Linked DNA regions of Homo sapiens. The protein of the gene in region 1 purifies or fractionates together with the protein of each later gene. This does not show direct contact. Each region holds a gene or a part of one and is shown on either strand. Other genes may lie near its edges.

The links.
Region 2: the proteins of VPS13C (region 1) and ANKRD22 purify together in Homo sapiens (co-immunoprecipitation; one large-scale study listed by IntAct). This does not show direct contact.

The regions. Positions count from the first base shown.
Region 1 is NC_000015.10:62,050,224-62,054,048, forward strand, and holds part of VPS13C (intermembrane lipid transfer protein VPS13C), read right to left. Parts: intron 1-3,825. UniProt on the Homo sapiens protein: Mediates the transfer of lipids between membranes at organelle contact sites. Necessary for proper mitochondrial function and maintenance of mitochondrial transmembrane potential.
Region 2 is NC_000010.11:88,824,053-88,827,877, forward strand, and holds part of ANKRD22 (ankyrin repeat domain-containing protein 22), read right to left. Parts: intron 2,064-3,825; coding exon 1,986-2,063; intron 1-1,985.

The DNA.
Region 1 (3,825 bases):
GAAAGCTCTAAAGCCAATCCCACAATCAAGTGGCTCTAATCCTACCAAGTCTAAACAGACTAAGGTGACAGATAAGGAAATTCTGTGAAGCGATCTCCCTTATGCTGGACTGACAGGCCCATGGGAGGAGGGTAGACAATATACACAGTAAGTAGTCTGTGCTTCAGAAGAGACCCCATATGATTCTCATTAATAAACTACATATATTTTGGATGTGCATACACTGCTAGAAAGTCACCATAGTTTCAAAGCCAATCTTGAAAGATATTTTAAGAAATATACTAAAAGGGCCAGGTGCAGTGAGTGGCTCATGCCTGTAATCCCAACACTTTGGGAGACCAAGGCGATTGGATCACTTGAGCCCAGCAGTTGGAGACCAGCCTTGCCAACATGGCGAAACCCTGTCTCTACCTAAAAAATACAAAAAAATTAGCCAGGCATGGTGGCAGGTGCCTGTCATCTCAGATACTCAGGATTCTGAGGCAGAAGAATCACTCGAACCAGAAGGGCAGAGGTTGCAGTGAGCCAGGATCATGCCACTGCACTCCAGCCTCAGTGACAGCCAGAGCAAGACCCAGTCTCAAAAAAAAAAAAAAAAAAAAGTAAATCCTGGATCAAAACTGGATCAAAATTTAGTATTCTTCAACAGTGAACCAGAAGATGAAAATGGAAGTAAATTAGCAAATGACATGAAGAGTTGGAGTCATCGCAAAAAAAAAAAAGTAGAAATAGTTGCTAGTTATAGAAAACAACCAAGCTAGTGTATTTATGAATAAAAATCAAATGGTACTAGCACAATAAGGAAAAGCCTGCCTAAGTCCAAGAATGGCTTTTTAAATACATAATGGCCTACAAAATAAATGTAAGAAATATAGTCCTATTGTTAAGTACCTCCAACCAGAAATAATCTCTCTAAACTTTTGCAGAAATTTAGGCTATAGCTTTCTTATGGTGCGTAACACTTAACTTTATATAAATCCCCAGTCTGATTATAAACTTCTTACTGATTCTCCTCAGAGTAGGTACTCGATAAATACTGACTTCAGAATGCATATTGTACTGGGGTGGAACCAACTACAATAAGGTCATAAATCTTTATATTTTAGAAAACACTTTCAGATGTATAACATTACTCAATCCTCACAGCCTCCTGGGCAAGAAACAGGTTGTATACATTAAGCAATAGAAGCTGAGGCTTAGAGAGGTTAAATGACTAGCCCAAGAATCCTATGGCAACCTAATAGTAAGTGGCAGTCTCAAGGCTCAAATCTTATAAAACTCAATGCTATCTTCAGAATAACACTGTTCTCCCGAATAGCAGAGCATAAAGCGTATAGGATTTTAATTCAGAAGGTAATTCGACCTCCCTGGACAACAAAAATGCCATAAAAGAATCAGACTCAGCATTCACAGGCCAGCGTGGTTGTCGGTTCCACTTTTGGTCTCTGTATTTGCAAAGAGACGTAAAAAAATCCAAAACAAAAAGGATAACTAAAATTAGTATAACAAGGGCACAGGCAGAACGGTAGGATAGAGTCAAGGGGGTTATGTTCAGAGCATAACCAGAAGAAAACGTAGTGCCACAGGGAAAAACAGATGCAGGAGATGGTATTACAAAATGGTCATTTTAGTACTTTTTAAAAATCTATTTTTTTCCTCAAAAGACAGAAATTCACAAGTTATGATTTAGAACTATTTGGGACCATAAAGATTTTCAAATCTAAGCCCCTCTCACTTTATACATGAAGAAATTAAAGTCTAAAGAGATCTGGTAGTTTATCCAAGGTTATACAATTTTTTTGTGGCAGTACTAAGAATAGAATCTATGTCTCCCAACTCCTAGGTCAACTTTCTTAATATAAAACATAGAGGTTAATCCAAAACTGTGATTAAACACAAAAACCATCCAACAAACAAAAATGCCATGCCATAATCCATGAAACTAGCTTTGCATATAAAGAATAGTGAAATAAAGAATGCTTTGTATTTATTTTTTAAGATTTTGTTTATGTATCTATAACATAAACATTATTTAGTTGAAAGCATATCTGAATGTTCTGACACAATTCATTTTCCAGGGAGGTGAGCTAAAGTAGATGACTGAACAGTTTTTTAAAGCAAAGCATGAATCAAATTATTTTAATGATTTATGTTTTAGTAAAGAATACCAGGCCTGGTGCGGTGACTCACGCCTGTAATCCCAGCACTTTGGAAGGCTGAGGCAGGTGGATCACAAGGTCAGGAGATCAAGACCATCCTGATACGGTGAAACCCCGTCTCTACTAAAAAATACAAAAAAATTAGCCAGGCGTGGTGGCGGGTGCCTGTAGTCCTAGCTACTGTGGAGGCTGAGGCAGGAGAATGGCGTGAACCCAGGAGGCAGAGCTTGCAGTGAGCCGAGATTGTGCCACTGCACTCCAGCCTGGGCGACAAAGCAAGACTCCGTCTCAAAAAAAAAAAAAAAAAAAAAAGAATACCAAAGAAAATATTATAGCTATTCATTTCAAATGAATCTAGCTAGTCAACCCAAATTAACCAATCTAGACTCCTTTTAATGAGTTCACAGTGACTTTGTCTTCAGAGAGGAAGACAGGAAAGAGAAAGGAAACAACTCTCTCACTCTTCCCATTTCCCTACTGAAACAGGAAGTTTTGACAAAGGAAGGTAGAAAGCTGCAACATCACCACTGAACTTTCTCCCTTTCAGTTCACTTCAGGGATCCCATAATATTGAGTAATGTGGTAGAGCTTCCTAGCAGAATGGTTACCAAAATACCAATTCTCAGTTTTAGTTCTAGAAAAGGAGTTAATTTTTAATTAGTAATGCTACTTAAATATGTGAACAGGTGCTTAAATTTAAATTTTTAAGCACCGCTTTAACTGGTAGTAACTGAGCCTAAATATGTATTACACTAATGACCTTTTCATTATTGTTTACTTTTATATGCCATAGGACAAGCTAATGAGAAATGTGGCCTCCACTACACCAAGTGCTGGCTGGGAGGAAAAGACTAAAGAAAATCCCTCTACAGGTTTAGAAATACCTAGATACTGACATCTTTTATGTGTCAAAGCCAAAAAAAGCAAAAAGAGCTGCTTTTTCTTTCATTCTCAAGCTGCCCTACAGGTACCTGTTAAGACAATATATTACAGTATATTACACTTGGACCCACAAATATCAGCATGAGCCTGGAACTTCATTTATCTTGTCACTGTCATTGACTGTGGCTCTTTACTCACCAATATCGGGTGAAGAGCAAAAAGGAAAGATAAAGATACATTATTTAACTACCTTTTCTCTCTATGAATGCGGAGGAAGTGGCAGTACCACTCATCCAATGAAGGATCTCACGTTGTTCTTGCCTTGCTCAAATCACAGAAGTTTAAAGACAGAAGAGATGACCTTGTCTAACCTTTCCACTTACAGATAAGCAACCAATGGTCACTTGTCAGAGACATGCCAAAAGCCACACAACTAGACAGAATCAGAGATGGAATAAGATTAAAGAGGTTTGCTCATTCCCAGTCCAGTGTTCATTCTCCTTTCTTATGCTGCACTGCTCCAACAATATCTGGCAGCTCAAGGGGAAGTGTCAAGAGTGGGATAAACTGTCAGGAGTGGGATAAACAGCACGGGTTCAGTCTGGTTTGCAGGGCCACAGATTCTGAGGGCATTGCACTTGGCTTCTATTCCTGGTCACCAGAGTCACCCTTGTATCTAACACATCACAGTTCCTATGTTGATTCCACCTGTCCAGTGGAATTAAGAACAACAGAGTTCCGAGTACTGGAGGATTTTCCTGCTGACTCTCCACAGTAAATCATT
Region 2 (3,825 bases), on another chromosome or scaffold:
GCCCTTTACATAAACATTATCCTCTATGGTTTTGGTGATGATTCCTACTGAAGAAGTCGGGTGCTCTTGCTGCAGGACACCTGCAAGATCAGTGCAGTTCTACAGAGACATTTCCCAAACGTGATTTGTTATAGCTTATATTATGTGTTATAAGCTAGTGCATCTACTCTGTTGGTACTAATTTAAAACACTACAGGTCAAAAAAATTATAGCTAGGGCATTAGTGTCCAAAATTTGGCCTTTGGAAAAGTAGCCAAGCAACCATGGTGCTGGTGAGTGAAGAAATAGTACCTTTGGCTATCAAGACAGGTTTAGCTCTGGATCCCATTCCCTAGAAACACCTCTAAAATTATAGGAGATCATGTTGCAATTATTTATTTTTATTAAGTGGTGGCATGACAAATGGAAGTTCTGGCTCTGAATTTTGTCATGTGAAATAGAGTCTAATTATCCAAAAATACAAAACACTGTCTTACCTAGAAAGTAGATTTTAATACTCAGATAGTTTTTGAAAAAATTTTGGTATTAGAAGTGGTGTCTGTGTGTGTACCTGCATGTGTCTCAAACTCCTGAGTTCAAGGGATCCTCCCATCTCAGCCTTCCAAGTAGCTGGGACTACAGGCTAGTGTCACTGTGCCTAGCTGAAGGAATGCAATATCTCTATCTAGAGAGAGAAATACACATAAATTGCTGAGAAAATATCCTAGAGAAATTTTGGTCACAGGCAGGAATATTAAATCTATTGAATTTAAATGAAAAGACCAAGAAAAACCTTCAACAAACTTTTAACTTCATCTTTAATAATCTCTTACTTAATATATTTCAAAGCTATCTAAAGAAATGGTAATGCACAGTAACTGTCAATACAAATTTATCCAAAAGTTCTATTTGAAATAAAAGGGAATATAAATTTCATAAAGTTATTTTCTTTTGCTCTCTCTCTCTCTCTCTCTCTCTCTCACACACACACACACACACACACACACACACAACTGCCTGCATTTAAACATGATACCAGCATAGGCAAAACCGAAATGATGTAAATAATTGATAGAAACAGGAATGGGGCCATGGTCTCTATCATAAAACAATGGTAATACACACAGATGTGCACACACGTAAAATATGTTAGGCATCACAAATAGAATGTTAGTATTTTGGAATCAAATTTCCACTTGCCTACTTTTTCAATAAGGAACTGGGAATCCAAAATTTTATTCAATCACCATAAGCAAAACACCATAGAAATAAACTTTTGTCTTTCTGTGATCATTGAGAAAGAAAGATGAGTGCAAGAGCACAGAGGTGAAAGTGAAAACAACACCTTATGCTCATAAACAGGAAGAAGTGAGCGGATGCTGCTACTGTTGTTATCACTGCTCTTACCATCAGTGGGATTTTTCTTTGACCTTTGTCTTATTTATCTGTAGTTTGCACACGGGGCCTCTCATCAGTGGGTTGGGATTTTGGCTGCAGTGGCAGCTGTTGCCATTCAATGAGCACTTACTACATTCTGAGCATGTGCTAAGTGCTTTACATGAACAAGCCCAATGAGATAAGTATTATCCATATCCCCATTTTACCGATGAGGACACTGAAAGTAAAATAAGTTTACAACTTGCTCAAACTCATAGAAGTAAAAAGTGGCAAGCCCAGAGTTTACTCATGGGCATTCTCACTCCAGCTTCTTAACTATTATGGCTGGTATTTTGTTATCGGAGCCTTAGTTTTCCTTAACGTCTCAACAACATTAAAGCCAATTATTTTAAAAATGCTTTATAATCAATAGAGGTATTATTCCCATGAGTTCAGCAGAATATAAATAACCTCAAGGTTGCCTGTCAGTGGGAAAAAAAAGGAGAAAATAAAAGAAAACTAAATGTAAAATTGTCTAGGAAAATAAAGCAACTGTACAGATGACAAATACGCTACCTACAAATACCATTTTGAATATTTTTTCAAAATGGCTAAAAGTATAAACTTACACAATCTGTAGCATTAACTTCGACGCCAGCATCAAGTAGCATTCGTACAAGAGCCTCATTCTGCTTTGTCTTTGATACCTATTACAAATGGTAATTATAAGAAAGGCTTATTTACAAATAGTTTCTCCAATTTATGCCTGAGACTATTTAATCAATAGGCTTCATTTTAATCCCAACACTCCTATGCATGCATGCACCCTTCCTAAAATTTCCCCCAGCTTCTCACTCACTCTAATATCAATTAATTAAAGCCAGGTTCTCAGACTGTGGTCCTGAAGTAGCGGCACTGACACCTAAGAACCTTAGAAATGTACTTCTCAGGTCCCACCCCAAACCTACCTAATTCCACTGAGGATGGGGCCTAGTACCTGTCTTTCCCTTCCTGGCTCAAAGCTGTGCAATTACTTCCCATTGCTCTGAGGACAAAAGTAAACTCTTCAGCATGACCTACAAAGCCCCGTATGTTTTGGCTCCACGTATGGCCCTGCCCTGGCCTCTCTCTCACTCTGCGCCTCCTGGCTCACTCTGTTCTACTTACATTGGCCTTTGTTAATCTTTCATTCTCAGAGAATCATTGCACAGGAAGTTCCTTCTGCCTAGAAGCCTCCTCCCTCTCTTCTTTGCCTGGCATATTCACCTTTCATTCATCAGCCCAAGTCCCTCTTTCTCTAAGAAGCTTTCCCTGACCCACCTGACCAGGTGAAATCCCTCTTTTTTAGCTATCCTAACACCAGTCGCCTTTCTGTATCACCCGCTTTATGGTAATTTTACATGTGTTTGTGCCATTTGATTAATGACTCTCCCCACCACCCTCTAACTCTCATGGGGTAAAAAACTATGCCTATTTTGTTCATCATTGTGTCCCTAACAGCTAGCACAGCGTCTGGCACATAGTAGGTCCATAATAAACATACGTTAAAGAATTGAACAAATTAATGAAATGAACTAGGACTCCTCAGAAATTCACTTTTCCTTCCCAGTCTCCTGAGCTTCTGACCACAAGCCTGTTGGAGTCTTCCCCAACTTCCAGTCTCCTGAAGAGGCAAAGCTCTCCCTGCTCAGCTGGGTATAGCCCTGGAGTTCAACCCTGTCATCACCTGGGAAGCTCCATCCAGTTCTCTCTCCTTAGGCTTCCCTCTTGTGTCACCTCCTAAACTGCCTTTCTCTGCCTACTTTTCTCTGAAATAACCCAATGCTTTCCTCTCTCCTCCCCTATCATTTCCTCTCATGTCACTTATTTGTTAATTCATCACAAATTTACAACTTTAGGCCCCATTAATAAATTGCACGTGCATGAAACTAGAGTTGAGCTATTCATTACGATTACTATTTTTGCCCAGTCCTCCAGCCTCTAAACATTGAACCATCTTAGAAAGCAGAGTTGTGTGTCAATAAATTCTGAATGAGCCTTCTAATCACAGTTGTAATTTTTACCTTTAGAATCTCTAAAAATGTTTGTAAATAAATAACAGATTCTCCCTGCCCCCAAAATACATGTATTTAAATGCTATGTGCTAAATACATAATGAATTTTTAAAGAATTCTTCGAGGATATGAGCAGATTATATTTTTATTAGTGAATTAAAGTTCTTTTCTCTCTCCTATAAATCCAAATATAAAAATCAACATTGTCATGTTTAATTATAGTTCCTCAAATTCTGTGGCATTTAAATACCCAATGAAATAATAACATTTTTGACGGGCAGACTTGTTCTGCGGCTGATGTTAACAGGTGTAACCAATATTCACAGTTTATGAGCTACAACAAGGAGGGAGCTTGGTCATTTAATTAAAGTAAATTATGCATCTCTTGAGTCATGTCTGAGAAGTGGAACTGGGC